Linked DNA regions of Homo sapiens. The protein of the gene in region 1 purifies or fractionates together with the protein of each later gene. This does not show direct contact. Each region holds a gene or a part of one and is shown in the gene's direction. Other genes may lie near its edges.

Region 1 (3,500 bases):
CTCTGGGAAAAGGGAAGGATGCCGCTCTTCTTCCGGAAGCGGAAACCCAGTGAGGAGGCTCGGAAACGCCTGGAGTACCAGATGTGTTTGGTGAGGGAAAGTGGGTTTCCTCTAACTCTATCCCATCTCCTCCTCGGTCCCCATGGAGTAGGCCTCCGCACTGCCCCCAACAAGCCGTGCTCCTTCCCATCTGCCTCCCCCACCCACAGAAGAAATATTTGACTTAGACCCAACAGATGAGGCCCCCTGCCAAGGGTGCTTCTCCCCTGTAGACTGAGCGCACTGTCATTGCTTTTCAGTTCCTCATCCCTCTGGGCCTCAAGCTCTGGGAAAGCAGGGGTCATTGGTTCACCTGCCAAATGGACCAGTGGAACCAGATAGTGTCTATGGTCCTTTGCAGCTGCTTACATTTATGTTCTTTGCCTGGCTTGTCCACTCTGCAAAGGTGTTTTGTCTTAATACTTTTTAAAAATTCTTTTTATCCTTAGGCAAAAGAAGCTGGGGCAGATGACATTCTCGACATCTCTAAATGTGAGCTCTCAGAGGTAAACTGAGGATAGTGTTGGGCTGTGAATTGGATCTGTCCCGTTTTCTTGGATCTTGTGTCCCTAGGAAAGACAGAGGTGGACTGGGGCTTTAGAAAGGCCAGAAGCTCTAGTCACGAGATGTTTCCTTAGATTTTGTTCTCGTCCAAAATAATTGAAGATGATCCTTTGGCCTCAATATAACGTAGTCTCCAAGAGTCAAGGAGTCTAGGTAGAAAATGTACCCATAGACTCCTACATTGCTGGAAGGGCCTGGCATTCTCCAGCCCCTGAAGGGGTTCACAATGGGGACAGGGTGGGTGGGGCAGGGCAGTCTCCTGCCAGCTGACCGAGGGAAGGGCTGGCCACATCCCCAACACCACTGCTTGCCAGCCTTGCCCCTGGGCTCAGCACTGCCACCTGCTGTGGCGTTTTGCCCTTGTTCACCTCCTGCCTGTCTCTTCCTCACGTGAATGCCACTCAGAGAACAAGCTAAAAACTGGCAGGAGGGGAGACACTTACTCTTCTTTATCTTATCTTAGATTCCATTTGGAGCTTTTGCAACATGCAAAGTTCTGCAGAAGAAGGTAAGATGGAGCTTCATCTTCAGAGACTTTCTTGTTGCATGTCTGCTTGTTTGAACCCACAAGGGACTTTGAGGAGCTGTCTTCCCGGCGTAGACACCTCCTTTCTCTCTGCTTCTTATGCTCTTGGCCTGCAGCAGGTGTTTTCACAGATAGGAGAGTAGGCTTTGGGGTTGGACCTTCCTGTGTCACATTCTAACTCTGCCCTCACTGGCTTCATGACTTGGGCAACTTCCTTAAACTCTTACTTCTCAGTTTCTTCCCCTGTGAAATGAAGACATTCATAGTTCTCCTTCCTGAGGTATTGTGAGAATTAAATGAGTGGTAGATAGCTAGATAGAGATAGAAATATACTGAGTGTACATGCCTACCACGTAGTAAAGGCTTATGAACCCCGGTGTTAGTAATAATAGAAACTCACGCCTTTTATTCTGGTCACCCAGGGGAGATTCAGAGGGGAGTGAATGATTTTTCAGCAGAGCATTGCAGCTTTGAATGCAGATGGGTAGAAGCGCTCTAAGTGAAGTATCTAAATGAGAATATGCAAAAAAAAAAAAAAAAAAAAGTGTTCCCTGCCAACAGAGTAGTGAGCTCCTTGGCGCTGGAAGTTTTGTTTGTTTTTTTTTTTTTTTGAAGACGGACGCTCTGCTCTGTCACCCAGGCTGGAGTGCAGTGGTGCAATCTCAGCTCACTGAAACCTCCGCCTCCTGGGTTCAAGCAATTCTCCTGCCTCAGCCTCCTGAGTAGCTGGGATTATAGGCGCCCACCACCATGCCCAACTAATTTTTGTATTTTTAGAGATGAGGTTTTGCCATGTTGGCCAGGCTGGTCTCGAACTCCTGACCTCAAGTGATCCACCTGCCTTAGCCTGCCAAAGTGCTGGGATTACAGGTGTGAGCCACCACGCCCAGTCTGTGCTGGAAGTGTTGGGCCGCAGTCAATGCCTAAGAAAAATGCAGTAGATTGGCCGGGTGCGGTGGCTCATGCCTGTAATCCCAGCACTTCGGGAGGCCGAGGTGGGCAGATCACGAGGTCAGGAGATCAAGACCATCCTGGCTACCATGGTGAAACCCGGTCTCTACCAAAAATAAAAAAAAAATCAGCTGGGTGTGGTGGCATGCGCCTGTAGTCCCAGCTACTCGGGAGGGCGAGACAGGAGAATTGCTTGAACCTGGGAGGCGGAGGTTGCAGTGAGCTGAGATCACACCACTGCACTCCAGCTTGGGCGACAGAGCAAGAGTTGGTCTCAAAAAAAAAAAAAAAGAAAAGGAAAAATAGCAGTAGATGACCTGGACTGAGCCCTGGCCCCTCTGCCAGCCCTGGAAGTTTTGCGCATGAGCTTTTATTTAACATCATGGCAGCCCTGGGAGGCAAGCACTTTATTATTCTCTATTTTCCACGTGAAGACGCTGGTGCTGGGAAGGTTATGATCAGGATGGCTGCAGGGGGATCCCTTCTCAGATGGAAGGAAGATGTAGACCTCTAAGGTCTCTTTCACCCTTGAAGATCCAGGTTTTAAGGAAGGGCATTAGATTCCCCATTGGGAGAGTTCATGATACTGACCCGCATCCCCGTGGTGGTGTCTGGGAGAGCAAGATGGTGGGGCGTGGCACGGCGCTGGGCTGGCTCCCACGCCCTTAGCCTGCCCTGCCTGCTGCTCTTCCTCAGCCCAGCATGGCCGCACATCTCTCCACACAGGTGCTGATCGTCCACACGAATCACCTCACTTCCCTGCTTCCCAAATCCTGCAGCCTCCTGAGTCTGGCAACCATCAAGGTACTGGGCCCTCCTCCCAGGCAGCTGGGGCTCTGCATGGGGTTCCACGCGGCAGCTGAGCGCCTGCTCCTTTTGGGCTGCCTCTTGCATGTCAGAGGGGCCCAATCTACCAGTCAGTCTGGGATTTGATCAGTATGGTTTACTGGATACTTCTGTGGGCTGTGTGTGGGTTAGGGTGACAAAGATGACCAGCCACAGGCCCTGTCCCTGGGGAGTTTACATGCCAGGAGGAAAGCCAAGTGACAGCCTCATGGCGAGTCAGCTAGCAGAGGGCGAGGAGACTGATGGTCCCAGGCAAGAAGGAAGAGGAGGGACGCGCAGGTGATCTGGAAGGACTCCCTGCTGACTGTGAGCTCCTCCCCGGATGGGCTGGGAGGCATTCACAACATGTGGGAGGTGTGAGCCCAGGGTTGTTATGCGCAGACCTGAGCTTGGGAGAGTGATATGCACCTTCAGAGGAGGCCGGCAGCACAGGTGTCAGCCCAGCAGCACAGGCCCAATCTGTTATACTATATTGTTTAGGGAATAATGACAAGAGAAAAGCCTGTATGTGTTCACTACAGATGCTTTCTTTCTTTTTTTTTTTTTTAATATTTTGCACCTGAGTTTGGTTGAA
Region 2 (3,727 bases), on another chromosome or scaffold:
CAGATAGCAGTAGGAAAACTAGTATTTCTGTTACATATCAACCAGTATTAATGGGAGTATTTCATACAGTTGCAAATTAATCTGATTTACTATTGGATTAATTTTTTCTTAAACAAGGACAGGGTCTCCCTCTGTCTCCCAGGCTGGAGTACGGTGGCACAATCGTAGTTCATGCAGCCTCCAATTCCTGGGCTGAAGTGATTCTCCCACCTCAGCCTCCTAAGTAGCTAGGACTACGGTGCATGCCACCATGCCTGGCTAATTTTTAATATTTTTTGTAGGGATGGGATTTCACTCTGTTACCCAGGCTGGTCTCGAACTCCTGGCATCAAGTGATCCTCCTTCCTGGATTCCCAAAGTGCTAGGATTACAGGCATGAGCTTGGGATTAATTCTTTTTTTTTTTTTGAGATGGAGTCTCGCTCTGTCACCTAGGCTGCAGTGCAGTGGTGCAATCTCGGCTCACTGCAAGCTTCACCTCCCGGGTTCACGCCATTCTCCTGCCTCAGCCTCCCGAGTAGCTGGGACTACAGGCGCCTGCCCCCATGCCTGGCTAATTTTTTGTATTTTTAGTAGAGATGGGATTTCACCGTGTTAGCCAGGATGGTCTCGATATCCTGACCTTGTGATCCGCCCGCCTTGTCCTACCAAAGTGCTGGGATTACAGGCATGAGCTGTCATGCCTGGCCGGGATTAATTCTTTATCCATGTTATCTGCATTATTTTTGATTTTCTGCTATATTAGGGAATATTGGTAAGACCCATTCCCTCTCTGGCTGTTCCTAAAGGAAGAGAATCTTAAAAGTTAGACAGGGCAGCATGGCTTATTGATCATGAGATAGATATATTTTAAAATTTTCCATAAATTTTGGTGATACCTTCTTTTATTTTTCTTTTCTATCTCTCAGGTGGACACAAATATATCTGTTATTTTACCTACTGTTCATGAGGTGGATATTTTCAGGTAAAGAATAAAAAATTTTATTAACTGACTTCCTTTTGCTTTGTGGTGGTGGTGTTAATTTATTTAAAAAATGAATATTATATAGGATGTGGAAAAAATTGGAAGAAAATAGTTATGTTTTACATGTTATAAATCAATGGTTCATCCCTGGGTACATGTTATAAGCTTTGACAATTAGGGAAATTTAAATATAGAATATGTATTATATGTAAAAATATTTTTGTTTGGTTTAGTGTGAGAATTATATTGTAATAATGTTAGAAAACATGCTTTTTTAAAAAAGAGATGCATTTTATTTGGGAGTGAAATGTCATGATGTTTGTGTTCTATTTTAAAATACTTCAGTAAGAAAAAATAGATGACGTGAAAAATGGCAAATATTAATCATTAAATCTGAGTGATATGTATATGATGTTTCTCACACTGTTGTTTTTACTTTTCTGTATGTTTGAAAAATGTCAACATGGAAAATGAAAAAACAAAAAAGAGATACTGTTAGCACTTAGAAAAGAAATAGAGGAAAAATAAAAAGTAATGTTTGTGCCTTTACCCAGAGCAGCTAAATCTTTGGATTGGTACCCAAGTTCTAGTTCCCCAGGTAGTTCTGATGTATAGGCCAGCTTGAAAAACCACTGCTATAAATGAGCAGTTACGAAATGCTCAAAAAGTCATGAAAGACTTAAAATGGATTTTTTTGGTGGGATCTTTTTTCTTTTATTTTTGAGACAGAGTCTCACTCTATTGCCTAGGCTGGAGTGCACTGCTGCAGTCTTGGCTCACAGCAGCCTCCACCTCCCAGGTTCAAGCGATTCTCCTGCCTCAGCCACCCAAGTAGCTGGGACTACAGGTGCACACCACCATGTCTGGCTACATTTTTGTATTTTTAGTAGAGATGGGGTTTCACCATGTTGTCCAGGCTGGTCTCGAACTCCTGACCTCAAGTGATCCACCTGCCTTGCCCTCCCAGAGTGCTGGGATTACAGGTGTGAGCCACTGCGCCTGGCTGACCTTTTTGTTTGTTTTTTATGACTTGTAAACTACATGGAATACTGCTTCAAAAGATTGGTTAGTTTAAAAAAAAAAAAGATTGGTTAGTTTTATATGTTGCTCTAGCACAGTACAGTCATCCTATTTCTAGGTATTTATTCAATAAAAATGAAAATGTGTCTACATGAAGACCTGTATGCAAATGTCTATATAGTAGCTTTATTCATAACAGTATAAAACTATACACAACCGAAGTATCCATCAACTGGTAAATGGACAAACAAAATGTAATACATGAATGCACATGGAATACTATTCAGCAGTTAAAAAAAAGAAGGAACAGTTGATACATGCAACAATGTGAAAGACTTCCAAAAGCATTATGCTAAGTGAAAGTTTCCAGATAATTTAAAGATACTGAATGATTCCATTTATATGATGTTCTGGAAAAGATAAAACTATAGGGACAGAAATCAGATCAGTGGTTACCTGGGGCTGGGGGAGGAAATCTACTACATAAGGGCTGCGGGCATTTCGTGAGGTGATGGAACTATTCTAGATCTTTGGTAAGGGTAAATTTTACTGCATATAAATTATAAATGTGACTTTTAAAACAAATTAATTTTCTTAAAAAGTACATGTTATGGCATTATTAGGATGAAAAGAGGGAGTGTCCCCAAAATGAATAAATATTACAGGCAAAATATACTAAGAAGAATGTGTACATTTCTCGTTTTGATACTTGACTCATTAAGGAATAATTTGCAGAATTGGCATAAATTAATATAGAGTTCAATTATTGGACATTTTTTCTTTTGAACTTCTGGGTATGAGTCTTACGCTTTATTGTTTGTTACTGATTATCTTAGCTTTTGTGGTAATCTTGCATATCCCATATCTGAAATGGTCAGAATCAGAAGTGTTTTGGATTTTGGACTTTTTTGCATTTGGGGATTTTTGCATATACATAATGAGATATCTTGGGGATGGGCCCAAGTTTAAACACAAGGGTCACTTATGCTTCATATACACCTTATACACATAGCCTGAACGTAATTTAAAAAAATATTTTTAATGATTTTGTGCATGCAACTAAATTTTGATTGCATTTTGACTTTGACTTACCTTGAGGTCATAAGTAGAATTTTCCACTTGTGGCATCATGTCAATGCTCAAAACCTTTTGGATTTGGGAACATTTTGTAATGTAGATTTTCACATTAGGGATGCTCAACCCTTAGTTAATTACCCCCATCACTAACACCTTTGATTAGCACATGTCTTGTCTCCTGGATATGAATTACATAATATTGTTTTAAGAGTGGGGCAAGTAAGTTTGTTGTTTTTAAATTCTTGTTTCCCGCCAGATGCAGTGGCTCACGCCTGTAATCCCAGCACTTTGGGAGGCCGAGGCGGGCGGATCATGAGGTCAGGATTTTGAGACCAGCCTGACCAACATGGTGAAACCCCGTCTCTACTAAAAATACAAAAACTAGCTGGGCATGGTGGCGGGCCGCCTGTAATCTCAGCTACTCAGGAGGCTGAGGCAGGAGAATTGCTTGAACCCAGGAGACGGAGGTTGCAGTGAGCTGAGATCGTGCCACTGCACTCCAGCCTGGGCAACAGAATGAGACTCCATCTCAAAAAAAAAAAAAAATTCTTGTTTTCCAAGAGATGAGAAAACCAAATTTTGAAAAATAATCTCACACAGTGATAGTATTATATCAAGCATTTAATATCTAATGATTAGATTAATGCTTTATTTGTGACTGTGCTTT
Region 3 (3,727 bases), on another chromosome or scaffold:
TTAATGGTAGTGATGATGATGGCGGTGATGGTGATGTGGTGGTGATGGTGATAGTGATGGTGATAGTGATGGTGATGTTGGTGATGTCATGGTGATGATGGTGGTGGTGATGGTGGTGGTGGTGATGGTGATAGTGATGGTGGTGGTGGTGAGGATGGTGGTGATGGTGATGGTGGTGAGGATGAGAATGGTGATGATGATGATTGTGATGGTGGTGAAGATAGTGGTGATGGTGGTGATGATGATGTTGGTGATGGTGGTTGTGATGATGTTGGTGATGGTGCTTGTGATGACAGTGGTGGTGGTGGTGACTGCAAGCTCAGGACCTTTCCCCCTCTCCCAGGTCTGGTCCGAGAGCAGGAGGCTGGGCTGCTGCAGTTCCTCCGCCTGGACGGCTTCTCTGTGTTGATGAGGGCCATGCAGCAGCAGGTGCAGAAGCTCAAGGTCAAATCAGCATTCCTGCTGCAGAACCTGCTGGTGGGCCACCCTGAACACAAAGGTGTGGCAGCCCTTGAGTGAGGGCAGGAGTGGGGAGCAGACGCCCTGGGGTGGGTGCAGGTGTGGGAGAAGGGGAGGAACAGGCATCCCGGGGAGGGCATAGGAGATGGGTGGGGCTGCCCCTCTGACCCCTGCAGCCCTCCCCCCAGGGACCCTGTGCTCCATGGGGATGGTCCAGCAGCTGGTGGCCCTGGTGCGGACAGAGCACAGCCCCTTCCACGAGCACGTGCTTGGAGCCCTGTGCAGGTACTTTGGCTCCTTGAGAGGACGGGGCCTGGGGTGGGGGCCCCGTCCTCTCAAGGTGGGGGTGGCTCAGGAATCAGCCCGTAGGGACTCAGGAGTTGGGACCTTCCCGTAGAGAGGAAGGGTGTGGGGCCAGAAAGGAGCAGGAGTCAGGGAGCCTCAGTTTCCTCACCAGTAGGGCTGGCACAGAGGCCTTGCAGGAGGGAGAGAGGCTTCTGTACACGCCCCCACCAGTGGATTAGTGTCTAATCAGATGATGCTGGAGCTCTCAACAGCACACCAGAGTTGACACGCACCAGGCCCTGTGCTGAGCCCCTCAGCACCCACCCTGGGCCAGGGGCAGCGTGAGGTCCATTCCGCAGATGGGGAAATGGAGGCCCATTGTGGGGCAGCGACTTGCCAGGCTCCTGAGTGAGCCAGGGGACGGGGCGGGCGATAGGGTTGGGTCAGTGAGGCCTCTAGAGGGAGGTCCTAAGGGCCGCTGTCATGTCCCTCACAGCCTGGTGACAGACTTTCCGCAGGGTGTGCGCGAGTGTCGGGAGCCGGAACTGGGCCTGGAGGAGCTCCTCCGCCACCGCTGTCAGCTGCTGCAGCAGCATGAGGAGTACCAGGTACATGGGGAGGGGACGGGGTGCAAGGAGGACCAGGTGCAAGGGGGAGGGGACAAGGGCTCCAGGAGGACTAGGTGTGTGGGGAGGGGATGGGGTTCGAGGAGGATCAGGTGCCAGGGGGAGGGGACAGGGGCTCCAGGAGGACCAGGTACACGGGGAGGTGACGGGGTGCAAGGAGGACTAGGTGTGAGGGGCAGGGGATGGGGTTCGAGGAGGATCGTGTGCCGGGGGAGGGGACAGCGGCTCCAGAAGGACCAGGTGAGTTGGGGAAGGGACAGGGTGTGAGGAGGACCAGGTGTGAGGGGGAGGGGCCTGGGGGGTGAGGAATTCCCCAGGTTAGACCAAGTGTGGTAGTGGGGACCCTAGTAGGGGCAGAGCCAGCCAGTCCTTGCCCTTGGGGGCTCCTGGGTCCGCTGGTTCAGGCTTTCATTCGTGTTCTCGTGCATTTCACTTATCTTCCATTCAGCAGATGTTTATTTCATGCCTAGCATTCGTCCCGTGCTGTGTCAGAGTAGGAGAGACAGCAAGGAGACAGGAGCTTGGAGATTCTTAAAGTGTTGCCCAATCATTGAATTATTATCTAAATTACCCAATACAGTTGTTTTACATTAAGTAAATGTAAATTGAATATAATATCACTCAAATGTCTTAATGATTTAACTATTTCATTAAATTGACAAGAAATAACAAATGGCAAAAAATAACCAATTATTTTGGGTAAATAACAAGTGATAAATAACAAGTCATCAGATATTTAATTAGATAAGGGGCAAATAAATAACTCATTAGATAACTAGATAAGTAACAAATGCTAAATCACAACTAATTAAAATTCAAATAGTTAACTGATTAAGTAATGCATTAATTTGTTGAAGTGAATGAATCAATGCTGGTGCTTCAGCAAAGCCGAGCTTAGCAAACGCACCCACCTCCTTGGGACGTTATATTCTATTAGATTCATTCCTGTGTAGACACTGTCAAGTGTCTGTATGTATTGAAAGTGTACTACATGGCCAGGCATGGTGGCTCACGCCTGTAATCCCAGCACTTTGGGAGGCCGAGGCAGGCAAATCATGAGGTCAGGAGTTCGAGACCAGCCTGGCCAACATGGTAAAACCCCATCTCTACTAAAAATACAAAAAATTAGCTGGGCATAGTGGCAGGTGCTTGTAATCCCAGCTACCCAGGAGGCTGAGGCAGGAGAATCGCTTGAACCGGGGAGGCGGAGGTTGCAGTGAGCCAAGATGCGCCACTGCACTCCAGCCTGGGCGACAGAGTGAGACTCCATCTCAAAAAAAAAAAAAAAAAAAGTGTACTACATGAGAAGTTTTGACTTATGTATACACCCGTGGAAACATTCAAATTAGATTTGTAACAGATTTTACTAATGCTTTGTGAATAGGTTCCGTAGTCACATGGTTGAAAATACAAGACCCGCAGGAGGGTAAACAGTGAAAAGTCTCTCTCCTGCCCCTCCTTCTGGCTACCCAGTTGCTCAGGTGTCCTTCTTAAAATATTAGGTACACACGAGCAAAGGTGCATGTGAATTCTCCTTTTTCTCTATGTTATGCAAAATAAGCCTGCCGTGCTGTGATGGCTGTTCTGCCCCTTGCTTTGTGGGCATTGCATGTCTCGCCTGTGGCTCTTTCATTTTGCAGCTGTACAGTGCGGATGGGCTCTTTTTTGTAGCATGGATATGCAGGTTGTTTCTACACTCTCGCTATGACAAACACTGCTGAAAGAATAACCTTTTGTATATGTTATTACATATGTCTGTAGAACAATTTCTAGAAGGGAAATGGCTGGGGTCAGGTATGTTAAAGGTGAAGGTTAAAGGGTTAAGGGCCGTTTCATTAGCTATCACCAAGCTGCTCTCCATAGAAGTTCAACCATTGACACTCCAGTCATGAGGGTGCCCAACTCCCCAAATCTTGGTCAGGACAAAGTGGCCTCGATGAACCATTTGACCTTTTTTCAAACTGATTGTTGAAAAGTAGTACTCCAGTCCAGTTTACATTTCTCCCATGAGTGAAATTTGGCATCTTTTCTCTTTCTTGTGAACTGTTCGTTCTCATCCTTTGCCCACTTATCTATTTATTGGGTGATGGTTTTTGCGAATGACTTTTTTAAGCTCTTTAAGAGTTAAGTATATTAGCCATTTGTGCTATGAATCACAAATATTTTTCTCCAACCTCGTTTTCTTTTTCTTTTTTTGCCATGGGAGTATTTTTTATATTACGTAGTTTAACCTCTCAGTGCTTTCTTTCATGGTTTCTGGGGTTTGTATCCGCAGAAAGTTTTGAGCAGTGGTCCATATCTGGGAGTTAGAAAGAGCCCAAGAGTGCTGATATGAGGCAGACCAATGGAGTGAGACG

The links.
Region 2: the proteins of LRSAM1 (region 1) and DENND6A fractionate together in Homo sapiens (co-fractionation; one large-scale study listed by BioGRID). This does not show direct contact.
Region 3: the proteins of LRSAM1 (region 1) and HSPBP1 fractionate together in Homo sapiens (co-fractionation; one large-scale study listed by BioGRID). This does not show direct contact.

Annotation. Positions count from the first base shown.
Region 1 is NC_000009.12:127,454,510-127,458,009, forward strand, and holds part of LRSAM1 (E3 ubiquitin-protein ligase LRSAM1), read left to right. Parts: 5' UTR 1-18; coding exon 19-90; intron 91-488; coding exon 489-545; intron 546-1,066; coding exon 1,067-1,111; intron 1,112-2,806; coding exon 2,807-2,884; intron 2,885-3,500.
Region 2 is NC_000003.12:57,654,916-57,658,642, reverse strand, and holds part of DENND6A (protein DENND6A), read left to right. Parts: intron 1-907; coding exon 908-963; intron 964-2,147; exon of another isoform or gene 2,148-3,727.
Region 3 is NC_000019.10:55,262,903-55,266,629, reverse strand, and holds part of HSPBP1 (hsp70-binding protein 1), read left to right. Parts: intron 1-343; coding exon 344-499; intron 500-647; coding exon 648-744; intron 745-1,240; coding exon 1,241-1,352; intron 1,353-3,727. UniProt on the Homo sapiens protein: Inhibits HSPA1A chaperone activity by changing the conformation of the ATP-binding domain of HSPA1A and interfering with ATP binding. Interferes with ubiquitination mediated by STUB1 and inhibits chaperone-assisted degradation of immature CFTR.